Linked DNA regions of Homo sapiens. The protein of the gene in region 3 purifies or fractionates together with the protein of the main gene of each other region. This does not show direct contact. Each region holds a gene or a part of one and is shown on either strand. Other genes may lie near its edges.

Region 1 (4,197 bases), on a different chromosome or scaffold from region 3:
TCTCCTCCCAGGAGAAGGTAAGCTCCCTGAGGGCAGTGGTTTTGTTTGTTTCACTCTCAACAACAGCCCCCTGCCTAGAACATGCCCAACACACAGTGGCTGCGAGCGAAACATGTGCCGAAAGAATGAATACCTGTGATAGAACCCACCTCGGCTTTTGTGATGGACACCCCGAGGGGTCTGTCGCTGACAGTGACTGATTCCAGCGCAGAGGACATCCGGTGGCAGAGGTGCTTGTTCTGGATGGCAAACCTCAGCTCTTCCTTGACAAAGGGCGTCAGGTTAGCAAAATCCTCAAACACCAGTGACCCAGGAGGGGACAGGCAGGGGACGATGGCAGAAGCACTCACTTCCGAGGCAGAGACCTGGCCTGGGTGTTGAAGCATCATTTTGCTGAAAGACACATTGAAACCCAAACTGTTTCAGGGGCTCTGGGGCATGGGATCAAGTCCCCCTCCCCCACCAGACCTCCAACACCAGAGCCCCACCCTCAGAGAAAAGTCCCATAAGCCCTTGGGTTTCTGTTTTGTTTTCATTTCATGCCATCCTCATCTTAAGTAAAGCAGGTTCTTAAAATACACATAGCTCAGTGACATGAACAAAATGCCTATTTGAAATTTATAAGGGATGATGTTTCAGGCTACTCTGAATTCACAAGATCTATGAGTTTTGGCTGGTGTGCCTATGTGCAAATGTGGCCACAAACAGTCCTGAAAGAGGAAGAACATTTTTTAAAAATCAGTGAGGCCATTTTAAAAATCATGAGTAATCTCATTTTCAGCTTCTTTTTCTTTCTCTCTCTCTCTCTTTTTTTTTTTTTGTATATTACTCAAAATAAAGTTTCTTTCACTTAAAAAAAAAAGCCTCTTTTTCAAAGAGGCTTGACGTCAAGCTGAAACTATCAGTGAGTGGAAGTAAAAGCAAAAAGTGGGGAATCCTTGAATTTAGCAAATACATCTCTGAAGCTTCTCCCCCGAAGTTGGGCCCAAGCAATGGGAATGAGAAAGGTAACTGTAGCCAGGTGCGTTTCTTCACCCCAGTCTTTGGCAGGGGATGGGGAGGTGGATTCTTAAGGTTAAGGTTGGCAAAGCAAAAGGTCTTAAAGAAAAGTGAGGCACTGTATTGTGGGGGAGTTGTTCAGGCCTGTGGTATAGGGATAGACTTAGGCTGGGTGTGGGGGCAGGGAACCCTGGGGCTGGCTCTGGCACTAAACAGCAGTGACTTGAGCTAGTAATTTCAGCTCTCTAGGACCCAGTCTGTGTCTGGTAAATGACTGACAGCTCCTCCAATGCAAGCATTGAGTCTCCACCATTGCTTTACCCAGAGCCTGGCCCAATGCCTGACTCGCCATGCCTCATTGGCCAACTGATAAATGAAGTGGGGATGGGGTCATCAAATCAAATGGCCCCCACGGTCCAAGGTTACCTTTCTCATTCCCATTGCTTGGGCCCAACTTCCGAGGGAGAAGCTTCAGTGATGTATTTGCTAAATTCATCTCCCTCTGTTATTCTATAGCTCGGTGAACCCAAAAGGATGACAAAAGGAAAATAAAGAGTAGAAATAGTGACAGTTCCATGGCCCCAATTTGGAAGAGTCCCCCATAAGTCTTGGCCTGCTGTGTACTCCCTCCAGTGGTGGCCATTTCCCCTCCTCCCTGCAGTTGGTTCCCAAGGGACAATGAGTATAGGGATGAGTGTAGGATGAGTGTGGTCTGGGCATTCCTCTCAACCGGGGATCTGTGGTCATTAGCACAGTCCAGACAGAGAAGAAGCCCTCTGGCAAGTCTCGAACATTTAAGGAGTGCCTCCTTCATACCAGAAACCTTAGGGGCACTATCTCATTTAATCCTCACGAGAACCCAGTGAGTTAAGATCTAGCTGCCTTTTATAGATGAGATAATTGAGGTTTAGACAAACTAAGTCATTTGCCCGAATTCACAGAATTAATATGGGGCAGCATCAGGATTTGGAATTAAGTTAGTTTGGCTCCAGGATTCATGCCCTTAATTTGTACATTGCAAAAAACAAACAAATATTATTCTACATTACAAAAACAAACAAGCATTATGTTATATTGCACAAACAAACAAAAAACCAGAGCAAATTTTCTCGGGGCAGGCCTTAAGGTAGGTGGGAGGCCTGGAAATGAAGTGATAGAGGGGAGGCTAAGTAAAGATTCCTCGGGATAAACTGAACTCTGTTTAATGAACTGCTAATCTTTATGTCACGGTGCATACCCAGGCTGCTTGCTAACTGCCTTCTGGGAGTGTGAGCAAGTGGGTCTCTTATCCACAAAATTCCCAGACTGAGGTCAGAAGATGAAGATTTGAAGCCCACTTACTCCATTATGTGTTATCATTGTACCTCCCCGTGGCTTTTTCTCCTCTGTTAAAGAGGGCTTGTAATAATCGCCCTATTTTCCCATAATATCCTATGAGGAATTGAGGAACTAATACATGAATATGCCCTGGAAAACATTCTTTGGCCAGGAGCTCCATGATTACTAGGCCTCCCAGAGATCTCTCCAGCCCAGGGCTGGCTCTCTGACAGAGGCTCTGTGGAGTCCAGGAAGGAGGGCAGCTGGTCACCCACTTTGATCTCAAAGGCTTCTGAATAGAATACCCTGACTTCAAACTCCCCCTGGAGATCTAACATACACCAATGGAGGCAAGACTTCCAGGCCAATGAAATCTGCCCTTGACTAGTCAAAGAAACCCAGGCTATGTATGTAATTCTTTTCCCAAAGCCCTGTGTCATGAGTCAGAACTGAAGTTCTTCTCTCAATTTAATCCTATAATCTTAGGATGCTGGGAGGATACTTGTCGCTGTCAGGCAATAAACTCTGAGAAACTAGCCTTCTAAAGCCAGAGGCTTAAGATTCTCCCATGCATTCATGTTTCCCTTCCCTTTCCAAGTTTATTAAAAACTCAGTGATTCGGGGATGACATTCAGAGCTGCCACTGGGCTGGTCTTTGTTTGGAGGCCTGGATGGCTCCCTTCTACACGGGGACTTTGAATTCCACTGCAGTAGAGTGTAGTTCCATTTTGCCATCCAACTAGGTTTATTAATGAGCTCTCAGGGCTTGGGGTCTGCTGTTTATGACTCCCGCCCCCTACCCTTCTTCTTATGTAAAGTCAGCAGTCCCAATGAAAGAAGCTGAAGAATGTCAGTGGTATGGAATGCTTTTATGAAAAGCATTGGGTGGGCTTCCTTGGGGACATAAATGGTTGTAAAAATGTTAAAAGCCTTTCAGAAAATAAAACAGATGTATCTGTCGAGATTTGGGTTTTCTCGGCACTAGGCTAAAGCTTAACTTCTCGGGATACTTTCTAGTTATTCCTTTACTCAGTCTCTCGAGGTATGATTCAGCCTAGACTACGGCTGTGTCCCCACAAGGAAATGAAGTTAAATCTTCACACAATTTTTCAGAAAGTTGAGATCCTCAAACATCCCGGTCATTGAAAAAAATTGTTTGGGGACCTCAGATCAGAGTTGACTTTCTATGCTGATCATAAAATTGTTCAGACTTGCTACCAAGAACTTGCATTTTGTTTCTGCTTGATTATTTCCAATCAGAAATCATGTTGTATCATTGGCAGTTTCATCATTTTCAAGAAAGTGAAAGTTTACTCATGTATTCCTTTAACTGGAAATTCAGCTCCCAGATTTTTATTTCCTAGTAGCTACAGCTACATTGAATTTTCACTTTTAATTTTCATCCTCTTTCCACTAAGCATTGCTTGCTAACCATCTTATGTTACTAGGAAGCCAGTACTGGCCTTTCACTAACTCTTCATATCTTGGTCTTCCTCCCAGACCTCTTGAAGAGGTGCAAAGCTGGGCATCAAGGGCCAGAGACAATGTTTCTAAGCCTATCAGTGCCACTCATAAGCTGAGCATCCACCAACAAATCACTTAGGCTTTCTGGGCCTCTCATTCTCTTCCTCTGTAATTTGAGATCAAAACTGCCTTCCCCAAAGGGCTGTTGAGAAGGACATATGAGATTTACATACACACCGGGTAGTCATTACTACTGTGACTCCATCTTCTCCATTTCAGGAAAAACTCATTCTGTTGTTATCAATTCAATAAAGCCCTGTTAGTGAGGAATTAACTGGAACCTTCAAGACATTCAGGTCAGTCAGAGCCTCTTTTGTACTCTCATTGACCCCAAGTTCTTCACAGACCAGGTAGGTT
Region 2 (4,224 bases), on a different chromosome or scaffold from region 3:
AATAATACCATTTAATTGCTATTTATGGGAAGCATTTACTGCCAATTCTTTAAAAATGAACAAAAATAAAATTTTAAAGTACTTTAAAAAATCACTATATAATGTACCCCAGTACTGTTAAGTGGCCCTAGATATAGGACTTCACTTAATAGTTGGTAAAACAGACTTGTAATTTGTGTTAGTGTTAGACGAAGTCACAACCTCACTGCTCCCCAGAACCTCTACCTAGAGAGAAGTAGCTTTCTCAAGGTCTTTAACATGAATTGGTAAGTACAGTGAGTATAGAGAACCCTCCTCTGGGAAGCTGGAAACTTGTACTATCTTAGCACTGACATAAACAGCATGACACCGGACAGTCCTTAGCTCTGTTTTACCTTAAAACTTGAAGTTTTTTTTGAGACGGGAGCCTTGCTCTGTCGCCCAGGCTGGAGTGCAATGGCGCAATCTCGGCTCACTGCAACCTCCGCCTCCTGGGTTCAAGTGATTCTCCTGCCTCAGCCTCCCGAGTAGCTGGGATTACAGGCGCCTGCCACCATGCCTGGCTAATTTTTGTATTTTTTAGTAGAGATGAGGTTTCACCATGTTGGTCAGGCTGGTCTCGAACTCCTGACCTCAGGTGATCTGCCCTCCTCTGCCTCGGCCTCCCAAAGTGATGGGATTACAGGCGTGAGCCACCCGCACCCCGGCCCAACTTGAAGATTTAATTGTTAGCTTTCTGCTCTAAAATCATGTTACACCTTTCCTTCTACAACCAGAGGGGTTAAAAATTTAGTAACACTAGAAAAGATGGCATATTGAAAACTTGTTTCTTTGCTAAGAACAGTTATTTCTGAGGATATTAGAAAGAAAACAGTATTAACAGAGATGAGAAAAGGAAAGCCTTATGAAAGTCTGTGCCACTTCTAATTTTAATTCCAGAAAAAAATGCCTAGACTGTAAAGTTTGACATAAAAATAGTAATCAACATAAGTTAATAAAAATTGCTTAGCAGATACCTAATAATCATTAGGAAACAATATCCAAATATGAAGAAAACCATAATTCAGAAATAACTTTTACTTCTCAGTATCCTGGAGATACAACTTGTGTAGACCTAGTTACCAACCTCTGTATATCTGTAACAGTAAAAAATTTCAAACAGCCAAATGTCCCCAGAAGAGGACTGGTTAAACTGTATCTGTACAATGGCAGCAGTTTATAAACCACTGTTTGTACCTACCTTTTGTGTAAAAAAAGGGAGAGGGAGGAGGAGAGAACATACATTATATTTGTGTATATATGCACAGACTGTCACAAAAAACATAACACAAAAAACTTCTTACAGTTTGCCCTTTTCCATGTTTCTTTTTTTTAGAAGTGTACATATTACATAAAGTAAGTTTGAAAACAATGAGGACATTATAAAGCAAAAACTTATAGGCGAAAATATTATAAGGGCCTAGTACCCAGAATATATAAGGAACTCAGAACCCAACAACAAAATTTCAATGAACAAAGGACCTCAACAGACATTTCTTCAAAGAAGATACGCAGATGGCCAAAGACAACAAAAGATGCTCCACATCATTAGTAATCAGGGAAATGCAAATCAAAACCACAATGAGAGACCACACCCATGAGGATGGCTATAATTTTTAAAATGGCAAAATAAGTGTTGGTGAAGGTGTGGAGAAATTGGAACCCTCATACATCAATGGTGGAAGGTAAAACGGTACAGCTGCTGAGGGAAAGTTTGACAGTTCCTCAAAAAGTTAAATGTGCGATTTCAACATGACCCAGCAACTCCACTCCCAGGCATATACCCCAAATAATTGAAAACACGGACTCAAATACTTGTACACGAACATTCATAACAGCACTATGAACATTAGCCAAACAGTAGAAACAACTCAACTGGATGAATCGATAAACTTGTGGTATATATCTACAATGGCATACTTACTATAAAAAGTATACTTAGCTATAAAAAGGAATGAAGTAGTGATAACATGTTACAATGGATCAACCTCAACAACACATTAAAGCTAGACGAAAGAAGTAATACACAGTGTATGAGTCTCACATGAAATACCCGGATGTAAATCCAAAGAAACAGGAAGCAGATTGGTGGTTGCCAGGGACAAGGGCGGTGGGAGGAGAAAATGGAGAGTAACGGGACTTTACTTTTGGAGTGATGAGAATGTTTTGGAGCTAGATAGAAGTGGTGGTTGTACACCATTGTGGATGTACTACCACTTAATTGTTCACTTAAAAAGTTAATTTATGTGAATTGCATCTTAATTAAAAACAAGGATAACATTCCAACTCCTGGACATTATCCTTCCTTTCCATTTGATGTCAGGCCCGTGTTAGAATTCTCATCCGGTTTGGTCACTGCACTTAAGAAAGATGTGGAGAAATTAGGACGCACAGTTAAGAAGAAGGATAACACTGATTAAGGTAGTGCTTTTCTAGGTTTCCCCTAAACAATTTAACAGATGGATAGTGGCACCACTTACGAGATGGAAAAACCAGCGGAAGGAAGATTTGGGGGAGAAGTTAAGTTTGTCTTGGGCCTGTGTTTTGCAACCTGAGTGTAAAAGACATATGTTAAGTCTTCAGTGGCGAAACACTAAAACTAGAAATGGATCAGAATTTTATCTTTGGATGTGACTTCTCAAGGATGGTCTTGTCACTTCAGTGCCTGGTCAAATGACAAGATGGGCAATCTTTTCCTGAAGGTCCAAGCACCTGAACGTGGCAGGGTGACCCGATTCCGATTTGCTTAGAACAATCCTAGTTCATGCCTATTGTCCCTCATGTAATTAATATCACTCTCAAAATGTCTCATTTTGTGCAATAAATTCTGTAATCGTTGTTGCAGAAAATAAATGAAATTCATTAAGCCTTCCAATACAATGGCAGGTATAGCAGGCTTGAACACATCTTGGCAGTGAAGAAACATACAAATAATGCAGCTGCTTATTTTCAGATGTCTCGTCTCAGAACTTATTTCAGAAGTTAATAGTATAGGAGATAACTTTTTTATTCTTACAGCTTAAGCAAAGATTAACCATATCCCCTCCCCTTTCCTTCCAATTTATATGATCACAGAGTTTTAGAATTGCAAGGGGACCTGAGAAGGTATATAGTCTTATTGTCCTTTCAGTGAACACGTGTTTTATGACATCAGACACAGCTGGTCGTATGTCTCCATTAGTCATCTTGACAGTAACATCTCCAAATCCACAAATAGGCACTGTTCAATCTTATTGAAAAACAGGTTTTGTCCTGAAAATTAGGGATCCAGTAACTGAAGACATGTTGTTGTCTGAATTAGTTTTGCTGCCTTCCAACACAAGCTTGTAATATATTGTAACTTTAAGTCCAATAAAACATGGCTTCACACTACTAGCAAAAAAAACCCAACAAAATATAGAGATCCCATCCCCAAAAAAGAGACTTACAGAGTTTTTAAAAGCATGTTTATGTGACTGCACATAAATGTTTGTGTAAAAAGAGCATTATGACAGTTGATACCACAAAGATTACAGTAAGAAAAAGCACTTTATGACAATATTTCACAAATTCACAAGGATCACTTTAATATACAAAGCAACTGCTACTATTCTGAACACAAAGCAGCTATTATGTACATAGTGTTAATAAAATGCATTGTAACTCAGTACATTTTTTTCTTTACACATAAAGCACAAAAAGATTTAGATAAAAAAATTAAAACAGGGATGTTTCTAGAATGTAGGGAATTTTATTAGAAATGTATTTCCCTCATTATAGTTATTTATTTAGTATTCAACTCCAATAGAAACATCAGAGTTAAAAATCAATACCCTGTTTTGTGCTGACAGTTGTGGGGGAAGTCTTCTTTACCCCAACCCTCAAAAACCAAAAAGCCAAACACCTTTCTAGGAACTTCCCTGATTATTTTGCTTCTAAAAAGTTTCAAGTGATACATCTGGGTTAGAAATAATTCCTTTTGCAGGGAGTGGGGGAGTTACAACTGACATGTGGACAAATCAGTCAAGGACAACTTTACATGGAAAACTGCTAACTAGCACTCTTCTTTGCCACCCCTAATAAATCTATACTCAAAAAAAATGTTGACAATTATTTCCCACTTTTAATATAAATAATTTTATTACATACACAAATTGGAGTGGCACTTGGATAAAAATACATCTATAAAGCATTTACCAATTTTAAAAACATAAGAAAATAAAACCT
Region 3 (4,197 bases):
AATAATACAAATCTTTTTTTTTTTTTTTTTTTGAGGTGGAGTTTTGCTCTTGTTGCCCAGGCTGGAGTGCAGTGACACAATCTCGGCTCACTGCAACCTCTGCCTCCTGGGTTCAAATGATTCTCCTGCCTCAGCCTCCCGAGTAGCTGGGATTACCGGCACCTGCCACCACCCAGCTAATTTTTTGTATTTTTAGTAGAGATGGGGTTTCACCATGTTGACCAGGCTGATCTTGAACTCCTGACCTCAAGTGATCCACCCGCCTTGGCCTCCCAAAGTGCTGGAATTACAGGTGTGAGCCACCGCGCCCGGCCCCATTATACAAATCTTTAGTGCTTGGAGAGCTGACCACTATTAACCCCAAGAGACAGGATTCCTGAGGCAGACCTGGCTTACAGATCCCACTCTGCCGCCTCCAAGCTCTGTGACTCTAGACAGCTTTCTTAACCTCTCTGAGCCTAAACTCTGCTCACTAGTACAGAGGCACTCTTTACATCATGTGGGTGTTTTCTATAGCACCCTTTGTAAGGGGCAGCCCAGACTCCTTTAAGCCCCTAATGGATGTGGATGCTGTGTCTAGATTTTCACCATTGCAAAGAACCTTGCTAAAAGCATTCTTCCAGCTAAAGCCTCCATTCAATTCCCCTGGGGTAGTAAGCCATTTGCAAGAAGAGAGGCGCCTAATGAAAACATCACAAATTCTTTTTGATGTGTTTTTTTATACTGAGTTGTGGAACAGGGTCCTGTACACCTGGCTTCAAGGCTGGGAGGCCTGGCTTGGACATGTGGTCAGCCATATCACGTCGTCCCCCTGCCAGCCTCAGTGTCCACATCTACAACACTTGGGGTTTGGCTGGAGAGAACATGAGAAGCCGAGGTGGCCCTTCCTTCTGGGTCTAGCAGAGCATGGGTGTCTCCAGTGTGGCATTTGCTCCTGGGGCTTCTTTATCGGGCAAGGGGACAAGGTCTGGCTTCCCGGAGCATCCCTGTTCCAGCCCCGTGTTGTGCCGGCCATGTGACTCACAGCTCCTCTCATTTTCATGAGTGTCTGGGTTTGACGAGAAATACATGTGCCACCCTGGTGATACGCCTCCCCAGCGAGGGTGGCCGGGCTTATTTCAGTTGGGGGAAATGGCTTTGCTGAAGCTTTGGGTGGGTGACGTCTGCTTAGGATGCATGTCTGTGCCCTTGAACCCGGCGCCTGGCCTGGAGGCGGGCGATGCACCTCCTGCCTTACCTGCCTGCAGGGTTCCAGGTTTAACATCCTGCGCCTTCTCTCCTGCCTCCTCCACACTCCAGGCTGGACCTGTACCGAGCCTCGGGTAAATTTGAGCTTCTTGATAGAATTCTTCCCAAACTCCGAGCAACCAACCACAAAGTGCTGCTGTTCTGCCAAATGACCTCCCTCATGACCATCATGGAAGATTACTTTGCGTATCGCGGCTTTAAATACCTCAGGCTTGATGGTGAGTATGAGCCAGTGAGGCGTTTCTTACAGGGTTTTGTTGTTGTGGCTGCCACAGAAGCTCCTCACTGGCATTCCCTCCTGTGAGGCAGGGTGAGGCCCAGGCGCTCTGGGTCCAGTGGCCAGAGTGGGCCTAGCCACAGGCTGAGCATCTTGGGCACTCGGCACTGGGACAGGCCGTGGATTGGACGCCGGGTGTCCTGACTCCTAGGCTGACAGTCTTTCCACGACAATGCTGGGCGCACTGGGGAAGGGGTGCCCTGTGCACTTTTAGCTGGAAGTGACAGAATTCCATACCATGTGGACACAGGAAAGAAAGCACCAATAGGCTTACATAGCTCTAACCCCAGGAGGTTAAACATCCTTCAGGCACAGCTGGATCCAGGCATGCAGGTGATATTGGAGAGACTTTTCTCCAGCTCTTTGCTCTGCCTTCTTCCATCTTGGCTTCCTTTCCACCTGCTCAGTGTCCCCAACAAAGGCAGGTCCCAGGCTGGCTCTCATTTAGCTGCTGTGAGCCGCATGCCCATCCCTGGGCCATTCGTAGCAGCCCAGTGACTGCCACCTTGCCACAGGTCAGGCCTGGACCTGGAATCAGACTCTGTGGTGAGCACGGAGGGAGGGAAGCAAGCACTGCCAGGCAGGAGCAGCAGCTGCCGTAGAGAGGCTCTCAGCCCAACCCCCTGCCCTGCGGTCCCTGATGGGAAAGGTCACCGCCTGTGTTTCTGCGCCTGCCTGCCCCAGCACACGGGAGCTCAGGGAGGAGAGGCTGTGAGATGCCGACAGGGCACGTGAGACATGTCTGTCAGTCCCAGTGGGTCAGGGAGCCCTGGAGTGAGTTCTTCGTGGGAGTTACTAGAACTGGGCTTACGAGAAACACGAGCATGAGCTGCTGAGACAGACACGGCTCAGCCAGTTTGTTGTTCCCTACACGACCTCCCAGAGCCTTTGTTGAAGCTCCTGTGCAAGGTCTGTCTCACAGCAGGACACCCCAGACCTCCATACCCCTTGTCCCGTTGATCACTTGGACCTGTGTTTGCTGGGCCAACCTGCCCAGGTGCCACCCGGAGTGTGCCCTGTGTGTCCCTCCAAACTGCAGGTCCTCCCCGGGGTTCTGTCCAGGACCACTCTACAGACACGAGTCTGTTGCAGGGGTCTCCCCGGCTTGCCTTCTTCCTTGGGGGCTTCCCACTTTCAGCTTTGAGGCTGAAAACCAAAATCCTTCAGGGTCCTCATGGCCGGGCCACCCCCCACCCTTTCCTCTCCTACGGTCTCTCCAGCGGCTTCTCCCGTCCTCGAGAGGGCCAAGGCTTCCTGAGGGCCATCCCGTCTGTGTCGTGTCCCTGACTCCCCCAGGAGAGAGCCTGGTTCCCACCCATCCCAGTGCCCTTCTGCCTACTCCATAAGGACAAGGACTTTGGTCAGTTGAACTACAGATGTGTCCTCTGCATGTGATGTGGTCATGGCCACAGGGCCAGAGAATCCATTGCGAGTAGAGGAAGGGTAGGAGCTCAGTGAAGTCTCCTGAGACTGCATCTCCCATGGGTGGGCTGGCATCTGGGAGCCGGGTGGCCCCTCACCTCAGCCCCTCCTCCGAGCTGGAGTAGCAGGGGCACATCTGGTGCCTGAGAGAGGGTGGGACGGCAGGTGGATGGCCAGGCTACTGTGGGCTTCTGCACCGTGCCTGGGCATGTGTAGGCTGGTGGCAGGAAATGGCCAGTTTTTATTTCTTCTTTTTTTTGAGACGGAGTTTCACTCTTGTTGCCCAGGCTGGAGTGCAGTGGCATGATCTCAGCTCACTGCAACCTCCGCCGCCTGGATTCAAGCGATTCTCCTGCCTCATCCTCCCTGGTATCTGGGATTACAGGCGCCCGCCACTACGCCCAGCTAATTTTCTTGTATTTTTAGTAGAGACGGGGTTTCACCATGTTGGCCAGGCTGGTCTCGAACTCCTGTCCTCAGGCGATCCACCCACCTCAGCCTCCCAAAGTGTTGGGATTACAGGCATGAGTCACCGCGCCCGGCCTGCCAGTTTTTATTTCATCACCAAAATGACTTCAGTGTTCAGGGGCACCTCTGTCCGAACTCCCAGCAGCGCAGGGAGTGTTGACATTGCCTTAATGCCCACAACGCTGAGGGCATCGTGGGTTGTCACCCAGGAGACCTGCTCTGGCTCCTTGACTTGGGTTTTCTGGGGCATGGGGACACTGATCCTGCCAGAAAGGACACGAGCCCCCTTTATAAGGTCTCCATGCTTTTACCGTAGAAGATTCTCTTTGTGAACCACAAAACTTTTTGAGACAGGGCTGAAGGCAGGTGCACCCACAGTCACTGTCCACCCACCCCCAGGTCCCTTGTGTTGCGAGCGGCGGTGTTGCCGGCATTGGCCGCTGTGTCTTCCGCTCCCCATGGAATGGCACAGGGTAGAGTAGAGGAGAGAATCCAGGGCTGTGGTGGTGGTGGCTGTGCTGACGCTGGACGCTGTGGCCTAGCTGTGGGCTGGGTGCTGGACTCTGTGCTCCAGGCCCACCTCCTCTAGTTCTCCCAGCGGGGCCTGTTTTCATTTCTGGGATGTGTGGAGAGACGTTTTGTGGTGAAACACTGGAAATCCAGTTATTCGCCAGTGGCCCACAGGCCCGTGTGGAGAGTGCGGAGCCAGGGATCTGGGGATGCTGGCAGGTGCTGATCCTGCTCCTGCTCTCAGAAGCAGGTGTTCCTTGGTGTCCCCACTC
Region 4 (4,197 bases), on a different chromosome or scaffold from region 3:
TGATCTTGGCTCACTGCAACCTCTGCCTCCTGGGTTCAGGTGAATCTCCTGCCTCAGCCTCCCAAGCAGCTGGGATTACAGGCATGCATCACTACGTCTGGCTAATTTTTGTATTTTTAGTAGAGACGGGGTTTCACCATGTTGGCCAGGTTCATCTCGAACTCCTGACCTCAAGTCACCCACCTGCCTTGGCCTCCCAAAGTGCCGGGATTACAGATGTGAGCCACTGCACCTGGCCTGGAGGTCGTTTTTCTTAATGTAGACATTTACTGCTCTGAACTGCCCTCTGGTAGTTTTCCTCTGGAACTGGGATTAATATTGGATCTCATACTACACCATTATACTTTTAAAATCACACATTAAAACTATGTTTCTTCTTTTGATGTTGGAGCTTGATTTTTTTCAGAAATGTATGTTATAATTTAGATACGCATAGTTCAATTTTAAGAATAGATAACATTTTTATGACTATTTTAGGGTTTTTATTTTAAGTACATTGTGGGAGTGGTTGTCTAAATGAACAGTTTGGGAATTTAGTACTTGGAATTCTGGATGTAGTACCAATATTTTGGAATTATGTAGCATCATTTCCTTAAGAGTTTTCACATATATTTTTACTTTCTCTTCCAAAGTATTTATGACTTGGAAATAGTTCAGAAATTATATAATTATGGCTCAGTTTCTTAATAATTAGATCATCCCTGTAGCCTCTCAACTGTTATGCCTTTTATAGTTTTTTTTCTTTTTTTGTTATACACTGGGAAGAAACTTAAGATAAATTTTAATTCTACATCATAGATGAGCAGTTTAGCAGTATTTTTAAGATGCTTCTTATGGGGGAAAAATGAAGAAATTTACTTTCTCTGATCATCTTTGAGTAAATATTTTAAAGAAAATATTATATATAATGTTACTGTTTTTAATGGAATTTTCAGATTGTTGTAAGCAAATATTTAATCTATGTAACCCCACCTAAGTCAAGAATAGAACATTGTAAGTACTTCAGAACTTTGTGTAATTTTCACAATTGGTTTAATCCAGGAAGAAAATAGGCAGGGGAAGGGGTATTAATCTAGAGACTATATAGATATCTGCTTACTGAATAGAGTCTTAGTTACTTTACAAACATTCACTGAATTCATCTAAGCCTATTATGTAAACAGGCCCTTTGGGAATTGAAAAGAAAGGTTTGTTCTTCTATCTGCGGTACTCAGAAACCAGAGAAAAGGCCTTTGTGCCTTTTGGCTGCTTGCTGCCATTTTCAAAAGTGTCACTCTGTTTAGACAGGTAGGTACTTTCTAGATTTAGACAGTTGAGAAGACTCCCCCCTAGGCCATGCCATTTCTGATGAAGGAATATGTTTGATAGTGAAGATGTCCTTTTTAAGGTCTAAAAAAAATGGCAAAGCAAGTTTGGTCCAAATGTCTCTTTCTTTATTCTAGCAGTTTTTCTGGCAACATCTGTGCTCAGATGAGTATGGATTCTTAATTGACTGTTAATTCATTAAAAAATTATAGCACAATGTTATATGCAGTCACCGTGCGAGGTGCTGCTGATACCAAAGCAGATAGTTTTTGTTCTCATAGAGTTTACATACTATATTTATGGCTGTGTTACCTACAAAGAAGAGTAGTGTTCAAGAAGCTCTGTATATATTATGTAACAAATGACTGCAGTTAGAGGTGTGTGGAGCATTGCAATGTGTGGATCACCAGAATTGCTGGGCTTAGAAGATAATTTAGAGCCTGGCTCATGAAACTTGGTTTGTTGTCAGAATAATCCAGAAAGCTTTAAAAAAAATTTAGATTCCTGGGTGTCATCCACAGTGATATTATTAGTAATGTTTGTGAAAAATTGCTTTAAAATTGAAGTTTTGTTATTAAAATAGTTTTAAATTGACTAGAGCACTTATTTAAATAAGAAATCTATTGGCCGGGCACGGTGGCTCACACCTGTAATCCCAGCACTTTGGGAGGCCGAGGCGGGTGGATCACCAGAGGTCAGGAGTTTGAGACCAGCCTGGCCAACATGGTGAAACCCTGTCTCTACTAAAAATACAAAAATTAGCTGGGTGTAGTGGCAGACACCTGTAATTCCAGCTACTTGGGAGGCTGAGGAAGGAGAATTCCTTGAACCCAGGAGGCGGAGATTGCAGTGAGCCGAGATCTTGCCACTGTACTCCAGCCTGGGTGACAGAATGAGACTGTATCTCAAACAACAACAACAACAACAACAGCAACAAAAACCCCCACAAAAAACCCTATTGTTTGTGCTGTAAAAAAGACTTGTTTTGAAAAGTAAATTGCATTTTAAAATAGAAATCCAAATTTTTATCTGTAGGGTTTAAGTGTATGCCTACATCTTTTGGATGGTTGGCATATGACATCATAGAGTTGCATTGTGATTACGGTATTATAAATTACTTTTTTTTCTAGTTAAGGCCTCATTAAAAATCAGGTTTGGCCAGGCGTGGTGGCTCACGCCTGTAATCCCAGCACTTTGGGAGGCGAGGTGAGTGGATCACGAGGTCAGGAGTTCAAGATCAGCCTGGCCAAGATGATGAAACCCCGTCTCTACTAAAAATACAAAAAATTAGCTGGGCATGGTGGTGGGCACCTGTAATCCCAGCTGCTCAGGAGGCTAAGGCAGAGAATTGCTTGGACCTGGGAGGCGGAGGTTGCAGTGAGTCGAGATTGCACCACTGCACTCCAGCCTGGGTGACAGAGCAAAACTCCGTCTCAAAAAAAAAAAAAAAATCAGGTTTATAAAATTTTGGCTTACGTTGCTTTTATGTACTGCTTCTGTCCTACATTACCCATTGTAGGTAATATTAATGAAACTGCATAATTTGATGAAGTACCCTATTCTAGTTTATAGGTTAAAATGTAACATAAAATATTAGGATACTTTATAAGTTTTCTGTGTTGATCAAAATTGGGAATAGAAGAAAGTTTGAGAGTCTTAATGTGAGTATATTCATATATAGATGTGGATTTATATACATAACTTTGTATTTTAATTATGCTTCTAATTAAGGGAGGAGAAAGTTCTGAGAAGAAACTATTAACCTTTAAGAGATGAACTTTTTCAGAGTATCACTGTGTAAGTTAGTTTTTAAAAAAGTTTTTAATGATGCCCAGAAAGTTAATTCTCCATCAAAGGTGGCAGTTTTAGATACCTTAGAAGTAAAATTATCTGCTCTTCCCTCTGTTCCAGTCTAATAGCATTTATTAATTAAGTAGTGTGATGGGAAAAACTGGGTGATTGTTTGGATGCTTACAACTATTTAATGTGGGAAAAAAATGAGGACTGTTAAATGAGAAACCAAATCCTTGCTTTGAAATAGCATTGGGTAATTTCAAAGCTCTCAGGCTGATTCTCCAGCTACTTTGCTGAGGTCTAGCTTAGTGGAGAGTTTTGTGAGGTGATAAATATGGAATACTTATTTAATATAGACTTCCATTCTTATAAGCACAACTGAGGGTTTTTGTTTGTTTGACTTTTTTTAATTCACAGGGAGAATGATGAATCAGCAAAAGAAGAGAAATCTGACTTAAAGGAAAAATCTACAGGAAGTAAGAAGGCCAATAGATTTCATCCTTATTCAAAAGACAAGAATTCGGGCGCTGGAGAAAAGAAGGGTCCAAATCGTAACAGAGTTTTCATTAGCAACATCCCATATGACATGAAATGGCAAGCTATTAAAGATCTAATGAGAGAGAAAGGTAACTATCTCTGAAATAACCCACTGTTGGATAATCTTCATATAGGCAGGGGAGGGAACTACACAAACATTTTTATTCCTCTGAGCCACACAGACTCAAAAAATTGATTTTTATTTCTTGACATGTGAATTAATCTTTTCCTCTTCTTTCTCTTGACACAATTTCATTACAAGGTAGTATGGATATTTTTCTTTTTGCCATTTTAGTGGGATAGTAGCGAGCCAGCATATGCATGCCACCAAGAATTTTGTTAAAGTGATTGCTTTGTCTAGTTGAAGTTTTTATAGATTTTAAAAGGGCTATTGCATTAGTTAAGCAATACATTTAGCGTGTTAAGAATGAATAATAAGGTCTGATTATTTATTTTTTTTCCAAAAGCTGTTTTGTTACTATCTTGGTGGAGTCTGGAATCTGGCTGTGGAATTTATTTTGTTTGCATTGTCATGACTGCCATGATGCTGTCTTTGCAGTT
Region 5 (4,197 bases), on a different chromosome or scaffold from region 3:
AATTGTGTTTTATCACAAGGCTATAAACAGCATGTTCAAGTTAGTATATTTGAGGTTGAACTAAATGTGCTAATATTAATATGTATATTTTTATTTTAGGGGGCCGAAACTCCACTGAGTGTACGCTTATCCTGACTGAGGGAGATTCAGCCAAAACTTTGGCTGTTTCAGGCCTTGGTGTGGTTGGGAGAGACAAATATGGGGTTTTCCCTCTTAGAGGAAAAATACTCAATGTTCGAGAAGCTTCTCATAAGCAGGTAGAATATAAGACGATCTTCAGAATCTAAATCTAATTTATAATACAAGACTTTATGCTTATATTTAATTCCCTCATTAGGCATTTTAAAATATATTTTAGACAATTTGTGCTTATTTTGAGAAATTAGGTACATTGTAGCCTATTTTAACAGACCTTTCTGATGTAGTAAATTATAAGCTAATAGCTCAAAATACTGGAGCTCAAGAAAATCCAAGCAACATATACTGTTAAATTTCTTTGTTCTTTTCAAATTTATAAACGATGCTTTTTTTGGTATATGTCCATTTCAGATCATGGAAAATGCTGAGATTAACAATATCATCAAGATTGTGGGTCTTCAGTACAAGAAAAACTATGAAGATGAAGATTCATTGAAGACGCTTCGTTATGGGAAGATAATGATTATGACAGATCAGGTCAGATTTGTTATTAAATTTTTAGATTGTTCAACTAAATTAAGCATGTCTTAATTTAATTTCATTGTTTTTTGCCATGAAAATAAATTAGTTAAATAGGAGCTTTATTCATCATCTCTAATCAACATCTAATCAGATATGCTTATATCATATGTATGTTGCAAATACAGGTTAAGTGAGTCTGGATTTGAACAGACCTTTTTTGATTCCCATAGAAAATTTGACAAATTGCCAGTAGGTCAGTCATAATATTTTTTTATTTCTAAACAATTCTTTGTTTGTTTGAGATGGAGTTTCGCCCTTGTCGCCCAGGCTGGAGTGCAATGGTGCAATCTTGGCTCACTGCAACCTCCGCCTCATGGGTTCAAGCGATTCTCCTGCCTCAGCCTCCCGAGTAGCTGGGATTGCAGGCGGATGCCACCACACCCAACTAATTTTTGTATTTTTAGTGGAGACAGGGTTTCACCATGTTGGCCAGGCTGGTCTCGAACGCCTGACCTCAGGCGATCCGCCTGCCTCGGCCTCCCAAAGTTCTGGGATTACAGATGTTAGCTACCACGCCCAGCCTAACAGTTCTTTTGAACTTTGGCTTTCAAATCTTTCTAGGACCAAGATGGTTCCCACATCAAAGGCTTGCTGATTAATTTTATCCATCACAACTGGCCCTCTCTTCTGCGACATCGTTTTCTGGAGGAATTTATCACTCCCATTGTAAAGGTACGCTAATTTCTAAGTACCATCATGGATATTTTAAGACCCTACTCCTCAAACCTGGATATACATATAAGCCCCGTCACATGTAGTGGTATACAGGGGACCCCACAGTGTACAAAGCCACAGTCATTGTTTTTTATCACAGGTATCTAAAAACAAGCAAGAAATGGCATTTTACAGCCTTCCTGAATTTGAAGAGTGGAAGAGTTCTACTCCAAATCATAAAAAATGGAAAGTCAAATATTACAAAGGTTTGTAATGAAACCCATATAGAACTTCTCATTTTATTATACACCCTGTACAAGACTATATGAAGGAACTTGGTATTTTTGGTTTTATAGGTTTGGGCACCAGCACATCAAAGGAAGCTAAAGAATACTTTGCAGATATGAAAAGACATCGTATCCAGTTCAAATATTCTGGTCCTGAAGATGATGCTGCTATCAGCCTGGTAGGTTTGAGTTGTATTTTATATACATTCTAATTTTAGAAATCACTACTTTAGCCAGTTGAAACATTTACATTTTTGTATAAGACTCCGTATCAAAAAAAAAAGAATGTTTTATAGAATAGAATGTTTCCAGTAAGCATATCCCAGAGAAGGAATCAGATATTTTAGAAAATTTTGATTTTTGGCTGGGCTTGGTGGCTCATGCCTATAATTCTAGGACTTTGGGAGGCCAAGGCAGGTGGATCACCTGAGATCAAGAGTTGGAGACCAACCTGTCCAACATGGTGAAACCCCCTCTCTACTAAAAATACGAAAATTGGCCGAGCGTAGTGGCTCACGCCTGTAATCCCAGCACTTTGGGAGGCAGAGGCGAGCAGATCACAAGGTCAGGAGATCAAGACCATCCTGGCTAACAAGGTGAAACCCCATCTCTGCTAAAAATACAAAAAATTAGCCGGCCGTGGTGGCACGCAGCTATAGTCCCAGCTACTTGGGAAGCTGAGGCAGGAGAATCGCTTGAACCCGAGAGGCAGAGGTTGCAGTGAGCCGAGATCAGGCCACTGCTCTCCAGCCTGGGCAACAGAGTGAGACTCCATCTCAAAAAAAAAGGAAAAAGGCCAGGCGTGGTGGCTCACGCCTGTAATGCCAGTACTTTGGAAGGCTAAGTCGGGCAGATCACAACGTCATGAGATGGAGACCATCCTGGCTAACACGGTGAAACCCCGTCTCTACTAAAAATAAAAAAAAATAAAAAATAAAAAATTAGCCGGGCTTGGTGACACGCGCCTGTAATCCCAGCTACTCCGGAGGCTGAGGCAGGAGAATGGCGTGAACCCAGGAGGCGGAGCTTGCAGTGAGCTGAGATGGTGCCACTGCACTCCAGCCTGGGCGACAGAGCGAGACTCTGTCTCAAAAAAAAAAAAAAACAAAAAAGGTCGGGCGCAGTGGCTCACACCAGTAATCATAGCACTTTGGGAGGCCGAGGCGGGTGGATCACCTGAGCTCGGGAGTTCAAGACCAGCCTGACCAACATGGTGAAACCCCATCTCTACTAAAAATACAAAATATTAGCTGGGTGTGGTGGCACGTGCCTGTAATCCCAGCTACACGGGAGGCTGAGGCAGGAGAATCACTTGAACTTGGGAAGTGGAGGTTGTGGGAGCCGAAATCGTGCCATCACATTCCACAAGAGTGAAACTCCATTTCAAAAAAAAAAAAATACAAAAATTAGCTGGGCGTGGTGGCGGGCGCCTTTAATCCCAGGGGCTCAGGAGGCTGAGGCAGGAGAATCGCTTGAACCTAGGACGCAGAGGTTGCAGTGAGCCAAGATGACACCATTGCACTCCAGGCTGGGCAAGAGAACAGTAACTCCCGTCTCAAAAAAAAAAAAAAAGGAAAACAGTATTTTTGTTTTTCTGTTGTTCGTTCTTTGTAGAAGGATATTTTGGAACCTATTAGCCTATTAGTACCAGTGACATCTTTTCATCCTTTAATTTATAGGCCTTTAGCAAAAAACAGATAGATGATCGAAAGGAATGGTTAACTAATTTCATGGAGGATAGAAGACAACGAAAGTTACTTGGGCTTCCTGAGGTAAAAGTTTTAAATATATGCCACAAAATGGATTGTTAGACTGACCTTTTGGTATTGATACTATAGCAAATTAAACTTACTGAATAGTTATTTTAGTAAAAAATTTGATATGATAGAGTTGTGCAGCAGTTAAATTTGCTTTATCTTTAAAACATATAAAATATTTCTGTATTATTCAATATTTTTTAAAGACTTAAGAATTACAGAAATAATTCTTAGTTCTGAAAGGTTTCTGTTTGATTTTTGTGTTGAGCATTGTTTAGACCGGTAGACTCATGTAATACTATTTGGTCCTTCAGGATTACTTGTATGGACAAACTACCACATATCTGACATATAATGACTTCATCAACAAGGAACTTATCTTGTTCTCAAATTCTGATAACGAGAGATCTATCCCTTCTATGGTGGATGGTGAGTTCCAATTTGTTAGTCTGTTTTCATTGTAAGATGGAAATCAAATTCCAAAATTGGTTAAATTGAGGATACTTACGTTTGCTCTTATTTCATTTTAAAGGTTTGAAACCAGGTCAGAGAAAGGTTTTGTTTACTTGCTTCAAACGGAATGACAAGCGAGAAGTAAAGGTTGCCCAATTAGCTGGATCAGTGGCTGAAATGTCTTCTTATCATCATGGTGAGGTAAACACACAATCCATGTTTCCAGAAAGCATTATATCAGAAATCCCTGCAGAGTCATTCTCAAAACAGATTTGGTGAAAGTATAAGCTCATATATTCATAGTAAAGAACAAGTTGGTAAAACCT
Region 6 (4,197 bases), on a different chromosome or scaffold from region 3:
GGAGACTAGCTTAATGTTCGTAATTTGTATAATTTCTTTCTTTTTTAAATTGAAATGGGGTCTCGCTATGTTGGCCGGGCTGGTCTTGAACTCCTGGCCTCAAGCAATCCTCTCGACTCAGCCTCCCAAAGTGTAGGATTACAGGTGTGAACCACCACGCCCAGCCCTAATTTGTGTAACTACTAATATTTCTCCTTTAGGTTTCACAAAATGTATGTATTTAAAACCTACTGCCATTTTTAAAGACTTGGATTACATTTCACCTATCACCATCATGTAAGCTTCCTACTTGTGGTATATGCAAGGGCAGGAATATGTCTTACTTAACTTTGCAACTCTAGCATTTGGCAGTTAATATTCAATAATCATCAACAATTCTGTTTCCAAAAAGAATTGGAAAACTGAAGAGAGAAGCTTGTCTATTCTTGTACTTTAGAAAATTTTCCTAACTAATAGCAATGTAAATAGTCCTAAAGAAAACAAAAATTTGGTTTAGGAACTGACCTATTATGGTTTCGATCTGTGCCAATAGGAGTCCTGCGCATGACTAGTTTGGCCTTGGCAATCCCTTCCTGGAAAGCTTTCTCAGCAGCTGCTTTGTGCTTCCGTATTCGTTCTTCTTCAGCTTGGCGTTCCAGTTTCACTGTTAAAAATAAAAAGACTCAAATCAGATATTTTCCTAGTAAATCCCACTCTTACAAATTAAATAAAATATGGAGTAAAAAGTGCCTAGTATACAGTAGTTATCAAATCTTAGTTTGCTTTCTCTAATTCTAATCTGTTACAAGAAATTACATGTAAGGCAGCAACATCTAGTCCTCCTACACTCCTTGAATTTGTGGTGACATCTCATCCCTCAACTCAATGCAAAATCTTTTATCTCCAAAATATCACTTCTTTTTGTTTTTGTTTTGAGGCAGAGTCTTGCTCTGTCACCCAGGGTGGAGTGCAGTGGTGCGATCTCGGCTCACTGCAACCTCTGCCTCCTGGGTTCAAGCAATTCTCCCGCCTCAGCCTCCTGTGTCGCTGGACTACAGGCACACACCACCGTGTCCAGCTAATTTTTACATTTTTAGTAGAGACGGGGTTTCCCCATGTTGTCCAGGCTGGTCTCGAACTCCTGACCTCAACTGATCCACCCGTCTCGGCCCCTCAAAGTGCTGGGATTATAGGCGTGAGCCACCACACCCAGCCAAAATATCACTTCTTAATATATTTTAAACAATCCTGAAGAAACAGTTAACAGTCCATAAATAGGACTAACTGAAACATCTTCTGACAGGTGCACCTACAGGATCCTCAAAAAGATCACGATAAATCAAACTAGTAAAATAACTATTTCAAAATAAAACATATTTCAGTCCTGAGGAATCTGACAGTAATTTGGCTTAATAGCCCTGATGACAAGAAAACAAACCTGAAAAGCAACAGCAGGGACGCACTTGTGGATAATAATTATTTTACATTGAACACCTATTTTTCTAATTATTCTGCAAGTTACTGTTAATGATAAAAATTTTATTTCTGATCATTCATTAATTAGGTTTATTCAGTTAGAAATTTCCCTCAACAAAAGCAGCCCGCTAATTTTGTTAAGTTTTTCCATAATTGTCACAAACCTTGACACCATAGGGTACATGGCAATGCTATTTACAATGTCACAATTTTTAAGAAGTGTTTATTATTTTTTTAGAGATAGGGTCTTACTATGTTTGCCCAAGCTGGTCTCAAACTTCTGGGCTCAAGCGATCCTCCTGCCTCGGCCTCTCAAAATGCTGGGATTAGAGATGTGAGCCACTGCACTCAGCCCCAATAATTTTTAACCCTGATTGTCTATTGACAATAACATCTACAATAAGATGTAAATCTGGAAAATGCATCTGTCTAAAGATGTTACTTTAAAAACTTAAGATAAATTCCATTTATTTAAAACATGGAATTTGTTACCTTTGATAAACAGTTTTCTAGCCCAAGTGAAACTGTGTATTTGTAACAATGGTTATAGTAGAAAATAGCACAAAGGTAAATGATTAAAAAAAAAAAAAAGCGAGAGAGTGAGTGATGGCCCAATTACAATCAAGGAAAAGTTCAGTCTCCCAAGACTACAAACAAACATAAACCAACTTAGGACAAGTCACCAAAGGAAGACCAAATTCTGTCTCAGAGGTTACAGCACTGAACTAGTTATCCAAAGACCTGAACTCTAATCCAAATACTGATCTTGGTAAAACACTAATATTCTGTCTCTTGTTTCCATACAAATAACAGAGTATCATCTTCTTTTCCTTCTCTTAAGATAAATATAAAACACAGTGGAGCAGTCCAAAAATGCAAGAAGAAATTATTACGTTTCAGATAAAATAGAGCTGAAGGTTTTAACCTACATTCTGCTTCATCTGGAACACAGTTATACTTTTTTTTTTTTTCTTTTTTTTGAGACAGAGTTTCTCTCGTGTTGTCCAGGCTGGAGTGCAATGGTATGATCTCGCCTCACCGCAACCTCCGCCTGCCGGGTTCAAGTGATTCTCCTGCCTCAGTCTACCGAGTAGCTGGGATTACAGGCATGTGTCACCACGCCCGGCTAATTTTGTATTTTTAGTAGAGACAAGGTTTCTTCATGTTGGTCAGGCTGGTCTTGAACTCCCAACCTCAGGTGATCCGCCCACCTCAGCCTCCCCAAGTGCTGGGATTGTAGGTGTTGAGCCACTGCGCCCGGCCGCAGTTATACTTTCTTGATAGGTATTGTTTTGTTTTGAGACGGAGTCTCACCCTGTCACCCAGTCTGGAGTGCAACGGCATGATCTCGGCTCACTGCAACCTCTGCCTCCCAGGTTCAAGCGATTCTCCTGCCGCAGCCTCCCAAGTAGCTGGGATTACAGGCGTGTGCCACCACAGCCAGCTAATTTATTTATTTATTTATTTATTTATTTATTTTGAGATGGAGTCTCGCTCTATCATCAGGCTGGAGTGCAGTGGTGTGATCTCGGCTCTCTGCAACCTCCAACTCCCTGGTTCAAGCGATTATCCTGTCTCAGCTTCCCGAGTAGCTGGAATTATAGGCCGAGTAGCTGGAATTACAGGCACCACCACACCCAGCTGATCTTTTTTTTTTTTTAAAAAAGACAAGAGTCTCGCTCTGTCCCCCAGGCTGGAGTACGGTGGCCGATCTTGGCTCACTGCAACCTCAGACTCCCTGGTTCAAGCAATTCTCCTGCCTCAGCATCCTGAGTAGCTGGGATTACAGGCATGCGCCACCATGCCAGGCTAATTTTTGTATTTTTAGTAGAGACAGGGTTTCACCGTGTTGGCCAGAATGGTCTTGATCTCCTGACCTCGTGATCTGCCTGCCTCAGCCTCCCGAAGTGTAGGATTACAGGCTGTGAGCCACCGAGCCTGGCCTGTTCATATGTCTTTAAAATGTTAATACAATGGCCAGGGGCGGTGGCTCATGCCTTTAATCCCAGCAATTTGGCAAGTTGAGGCAGGCAGTTCATTTGAGGTCAGAGTTTTGGGACCAGCCTAACCAACATGGTGAATCCCCATCTCTACTAAAAATACAAAAATTAGCTGAGTGTGGTAGCAGATGCCTTGTTATCCCAGCTACTCAGGAGGCTGAGGCACGAGAATAGCTTGAACCTGGGAGGTGGAGGTTGCAGTGAGCCAGATCGCACCATTGCACTCCAGCCTGAGCGACAGAGCGACGCTCTGTATCCAAAAAAATAAATAAAATGGAAAGTACACATTACATATGTATACTCAGGCACAGTATGCATACATATGCAAAAATATTTCAATGGCCTTAAGTAGTGTAAACTAAAATTTGTTTTAAAAGGAATATACATTTTCTAATGAAAGAACTATTCAAGCCGGGGTTTGGTGGCTCAGGCCTGTAATCCCAGCACTTTAGGAGGCTGAAGCAGGAAGATTGCTTGAGTTTAGGGGTTCAATACCAGCCTCCACAAATAATAAAAAGATTAGCCAGGCGTGCTGACACATGCCTGTAAGTCCCAGCTGCTCGGGAGGCCGAAGTGGGAGGACCACTTGAGCCCAAGAGGTCAAGGCTGCAGTGAGCTGAGATCACACTGCTGCACTCCAGCTTGGGTGACAGAATGAGACCTTGTCTCAAAATAAAATAAAAAAGAAAATGTTGAAAAAGAACAAGCTGGAAGATCAACACTTCCCTATTCCGAAACTTAC
Region 7 (4,197 bases), on a different chromosome or scaffold from region 3:
TTATAACAATTTACCTGTCCCTTCACATCCTCTTTTTGTCAAGTACACATAGAAATGAATTTCTTTTTTAAAGGTCAAGGGTTAAGGAATAGATCTGGGAAATGCCACTAAGGTTTGGATCGGTGCACTTAGAACTGTTGTAAGTGAGAGGAAATGAAAGTATACGTACTGAAGGTGATTCACCTATTTGAGCTGCCAGTGTAAGATTTTTAATTGTTTTTGTTTTTTAAATTAATAGGTAAATGGATTTCGCAGTTATGTAGATCTTTATGTGAAAGACAAATTGGATGAAACTGGGGTGGCCCTGAAAGTTATTCATGAGCTTGCAAATGAAAGATGGGATGTTTGTCTCACATTGAGTGAAAAAGGATTCCAGCAAATCAGCTTTGTAAATAGTATTGCAACTACAAAAGTAAGTAAGCAAATTATTTGTTTCCAAGTCAGTGGTAGAACAGTACTTCAATAAAAACTACAAAACAAATAACAATATCCACAACCCCCAAAAAACCCAAATCTGTTTTTGTTAAATAAGAATTGACTTATGAAAACAAAAACCTATTTTCTATGAAATTGCTGTATTAAAATTTATTTAAACAATTATTGAGAAATAAATTTATATGACTAGTGTTTGTAGTTGAACATATTTATATTTTATGAAATTTAGAATAACAAATTCCTTTTTCTGTAACTTTTAGCCCCACCTTCCCCAACCTCTGGGGAGAGGAGAGGGGGCTGGTGACTGAGTTAAAAATCAATTATGGCTATGTGATAAAGCTCTGTAAAAACTCCTGAACAATGGAGTTCACAGAACTCCTAGGTTGGTGAATACATTTGAGGTGCCAAGAGGGTGGCATGTCTGGGTAAGGCATGGAGCTTTGTGTACCCTTTCCCCTGTACTATGCCCTATGCATCTCTTCCATTTGGCTATTATTGCTGGATCCTATATAAAAAACTTGTAAATGAAGTAAAGTGTGTTCTTGAGTTCTGTGACCTGTTCCAGCAAATTATCATTCCTGAGGAGTGGGTCATAGGTTCGTTAGAAGTACAGGAGGCCTAGGACTTGTAACTGGCATCTGAAGTGTGGGGAGTCCTGTGGGATTGAGCCCTTAACCAACCCTAAATACTTGTGCTAACTCCAGGTAGTTAGTATCAAAATTGAATTACATTGTTGAACATCCATTTGGTGTCTGGAGAATCAGAGAATTGGTTGCTGGTGTTGAAAGCACCTGAGAATTGGTGTTAGAATTGAAGTGAGGAAAGCAAACAAACAAACAAACAAAAAAAACACAGCGGTTGGTTTATTGGCTCTGTAGCCAAAATGTCTTATTTTTTTAAAATCTCAACTCTCGTTCTGAGACTCTATTACTCTTTTAGAAAATAGGGTTTATAATACAGATAAAGTATTTTGCTACTTTAACAATACAGGATTTCAGATTTCATATATTTTTTTTTCTTTAGGGTGGACGGCACGTGGATTATGTGGTAGATCAAGTTGTTGGTAAACTGATTGAAGTAGTTAAGAAAAAGAACAAAGCTGGTGTATCAGTGAAACCATTTCAAGTAAGGGATGTGTTATATATTGTACATGATGCATACATATGCATTATATATATACTGAATTACTAAATATCAGCTCTGATATTGACTTTTTTGGGTATGTTTTCAACAGGTAAAAAACCATATATGGGTTTTTATTAATTGCCTTATTGAAAATCCAACTTTTGATTCTCAGACTAAGGAAAACATGACTCTGCAGCCCAAAAGTTTTGGGTCTAAATGCCAGCTGTCAGAAAAATTTTTTAAAGCAGTGAGTAAAACTTGTATTTTTTTTATTGTTGTTATTAAGAGTTGATTAGGTAGTTTTCTTGATTTACTTTATTTGTGATTAGTTTCTTTCATCGTATTAACTGTGGGTATAAGCATGCTTGCACTACAAACTAATATGCTTAATTTGATAACTTTAAAGGGTAGACTTTAATGTTTCCTAAAACAATTGTTTTGCCAAGAACTAAAGTAGGGAATTATGTAACTAATTGCATTTTTAGCTTTGTATTGACCATTGTAAAGGTCAGATTTCCCCTAACAGATGTCCAGATCCTTATGCAACTCTTTCATCTTTTCTACTCTCATTTCAACTTGATCTACTGATTCTTATCTTTATACATGTTTAAAAATTGTGGTAACATGTATAACAAAATGTACTATTTTCTACATGTTCTTAAATTGCTTTGCTTTGCACATAATTTTTTTAGGCTACCTTAACTTCTCTAAAATAAGGTGAGAGCACAAATAAATAATGGAGATGAATCAATCACAGCCTCTCCTCTTTGGAATTTTGGTGGGGAAATGCTCTATAACTGCCCTAGAACTAATGTATTTCTCAAATTCCAAAAAGTAGATTATCAGAAACAAAAACAAAAGTTGTTTTTTAGGTTCTAACTTAAGGCCTGTAGAAATAGTACTTTTGGATCTAATCTTAATGAATTCTGAGTACAAATTATGCTATATTAATGCTTTCCCAAATTTCTGTCCTCATAACAATTGTTTCCTTGATGAAGTGATTTGATTTTAAATTTTATACTTTTTCATTTTAGGTGCACTAAGTTTAAATTTGACAACACAGTTCACCTCTTTTGTTTATGTCTTAAACATTCCAGAAAACTGTTTTATACACCTAACATCAAATCACCGAGGATGATAAAAAAACTTTTAGGACTTAGAGTTGGAGATGCTTAACTTTCTTTTCCTTTTTCTGTCTGGGTTAACATCTTGCCACAGATTGATTCACTGCAGAGTACAAACAATATGTAATGTTGAAATCTTTATTACCAAGCTATTTAAAGAATAAAAGTCTATTCATAAGTTACCAAGGTTATCCTAATGTTCCTTTTAGGTTAATACTTTTTGTCATAGTGAATTAAAGACTCACGTTTTGTATTGAAGGATATCAGAAATGTCAACGTCTGGAATTTGCCGGCTAGTAGGTTCATGTGTGGATCTGTTTTCACTGTGTTAATTTTAATAAAATTAATTTGTAACAAGAGCAATGCATATTCCTCATGGAGTTTATTATAATAGAATGTTTCTCATATGTAAAAGTTATCCTTTTTCATGTATTTATATTTTAGCTTTAATTTTACAGTAGTTGAGTAAAAGCTGATTAGCATGTATCATGATGCTTATCACCATTATTGTTTTGCCCTAAAATACCTTAAAATTGCACAGATTCCAGGTCTTGCATTAGGCCCTATACATTTTAGCTAAATGTATGAATTTTCAGCTTGTTTGTATACCATTATTCTTTTATTTTTAGGCCTCTAATTGTGGCATTGTAGAAAGTATCCTGAACTGGGTGAAATTTAAGGCTCAGACTCAGCTGAATAAGAAGTGTTCATCAGTAAAATACAGTAAAATCAAAGGTATTCCCAAACTGGATGATGCTAATGATGCTGGTAAGATTGATATTTTTAAATAAGATTTTGATTTAAGTTTCACTTTTATTTAGTTACAGAATTTTTTTATTTTCTACATATAGTTAGACTATGATTTTCCATTCAGAGTATGATTTTACTTCATTGAAATTATCACATACACAACATATTACTAATTTTCAGGGGATAGGAATTTAATAAAATATACTTAATATTTATACTGAGCAATAATGTAAAATAACTTTTATAGTCTTTCACTGTCAGCATTCTAATGTTAATTTTCTGACTTCATTTTTCTCATCAGTGAAAGTATGAGAAATTTTTACTATGTATAATTTTAAATTTCTCTCAGGTGGTAAACATTCCCTGGAGTGTACACTGATATTAACAGAGGGAGACTCTGCCAAATCACTGGCTGTGTCTGGATTAGGTGTGATTGGACGAGACAGATACGGAGTTTTTCCACTCAGGGGCAAAATTCTTAATGTACGGGAAGCTTCTCATAAACAGGTATGTATGTGTGTGTATATATATGTGTATACACACATGCACACATACATATGACATTTCTAATACTTTACTAAACTTCTCGAATTTTTAAATGTAATTTCTGACTCGTATATTTCAACACTTCAAACTACTCTCAGTGCTTTTCCTTTTTGAACAGATCATGGAAAATGCTGAAATAAATAATATTATTAAAATAGTTGGTCTACAATATAAGAAAAGTTACGATGATGCAGAATCTCTGAAAACCTTACGCTAT

The links.
Region 1: the proteins of SMARCA4 (region 3) and ATF3 purify together in Homo sapiens (affinity purification with western blotting; 2 studies listed by BioGRID). This does not show direct contact.
Region 2: the proteins of SMARCA4 (region 3) and CREB1 purify together in Homo sapiens (affinity purification with western blotting; 3 studies listed by BioGRID, with this or other methods). This does not show direct contact.
Region 4: the proteins of SMARCA4 (region 3) and MYEF2 purify together in Homo sapiens (affinity purification with western blotting; 3 studies listed by BioGRID, with this or other methods). This does not show direct contact.
Region 5: the proteins of SMARCA4 (region 3) and TOP2A purify together in Homo sapiens (affinity purification with western blotting; 3 studies listed by BioGRID and IntAct, with this or other methods). This does not show direct contact.
Region 6: the proteins of SMARCA4 (region 3) and BAZ1B fractionate together in Homo sapiens (co-fractionation; 3 studies listed by BioGRID, with this or other methods). This does not show direct contact.
Region 7: the proteins of SMARCA4 (region 3) and TOP2B fractionate together in Homo sapiens (co-fractionation; 3 studies listed by BioGRID, with this or other methods). This does not show direct contact.

The regions. Positions count from the first base shown.
Region 1 is NC_000001.11:212,611,214-212,615,410, reverse strand, and holds part of ATF3 (cyclic AMP-dependent transcription factor ATF-3), read right to left. Parts: intron 394-4,197; 5' UTR 390-393; coding exon 150-389; intron 1-149.
Region 2 is NC_000002.12:207,602,655-207,606,878, reverse strand, and holds the end of CREB1 (cyclic AMP-responsive element-binding protein 1), read right to left. Parts: 3' UTR 891-4,224; downstream 1-890.
Region 3 is NC_000019.10:11,026,485-11,030,681, forward strand, and holds part of SMARCA4 (SWI/SNF-related matrix-associated actin-dependent regulator of chromatin subfamily A member 4), read left to right. Parts: intron 1-1,299; coding exon 1,300-1,466; intron 1,467-4,197. UniProt on the Homo sapiens protein: ATPase involved in transcriptional activation and repression of select genes by chromatin remodeling (alteration of DNA-nucleosome topology).
Region 4 is NC_000015.10:48,168,159-48,172,355, reverse strand, and holds part of MYEF2 (myelin expression factor 2), read left to right. Parts: intron 1-3,516; coding exon 3,517-3,725; intron 3,726-4,197. UniProt on the Homo sapiens protein: Transcriptional repressor of the myelin basic protein gene (MBP). Binds to the proximal MB1 element 5'-TTGTCC-3' of the MBP promoter. Its binding to MB1 and function are inhibited by PURA.
Region 5 is NC_000017.11:40,404,027-40,408,223, reverse strand, and holds part of TOP2A (DNA topoisomerase 2-alpha), read left to right. Parts: intron 1-99; coding exon 100-257; intron 258-549; coding exon 550-675; intron 676-1,281; coding exon 1,282-1,392; intron 1,393-1,534; coding exon 1,535-1,640; intron 1,641-1,730; coding exon 1,731-1,840; intron 1,841-3,340; coding exon 3,341-3,433; intron 3,434-3,732; coding exon 3,733-3,847; intron 3,848-3,950; coding exon 3,951-4,072; intron 4,073-4,197. UniProt on the Homo sapiens protein: Key decatenating enzyme that alters DNA topology by binding to two double-stranded DNA molecules, generating a double-stranded break in one of the strands, passing the intact strand through the broken strand, and religating the broken strand.
Region 6 is NC_000007.14:73,469,841-73,474,037, forward strand, and holds part of BAZ1B (tyrosine-protein kinase BAZ1B), read right to left. Parts: intron 644-4,197; coding exon 505-643; intron 1-504. UniProt on the Homo sapiens protein: Atypical tyrosine-protein kinase that plays a central role in chromatin remodeling and acts as a transcription regulator. Involved in DNA damage response by phosphorylating 'Tyr-142' of histone H2AX (H2AXY142ph).
Region 7 is NC_000003.12:25,630,056-25,634,252, reverse strand, and holds part of TOP2B (DNA topoisomerase 2-beta), read left to right. Parts: intron 1-238; coding exon 239-412; intron 413-1,458; coding exon 1,459-1,560; intron 1,561-1,669; coding exon 1,670-1,807; intron 1,808-3,313; coding exon 3,314-3,452; intron 3,453-3,783; coding exon 3,784-3,941; intron 3,942-4,098; coding exon 4,099-4,197. UniProt on the Homo sapiens protein: Key decatenating enzyme that alters DNA topology by binding to two double-stranded DNA molecules, generating a double-stranded break in one of the strands, passing the intact strand through the broken strand, and religating the broken strand.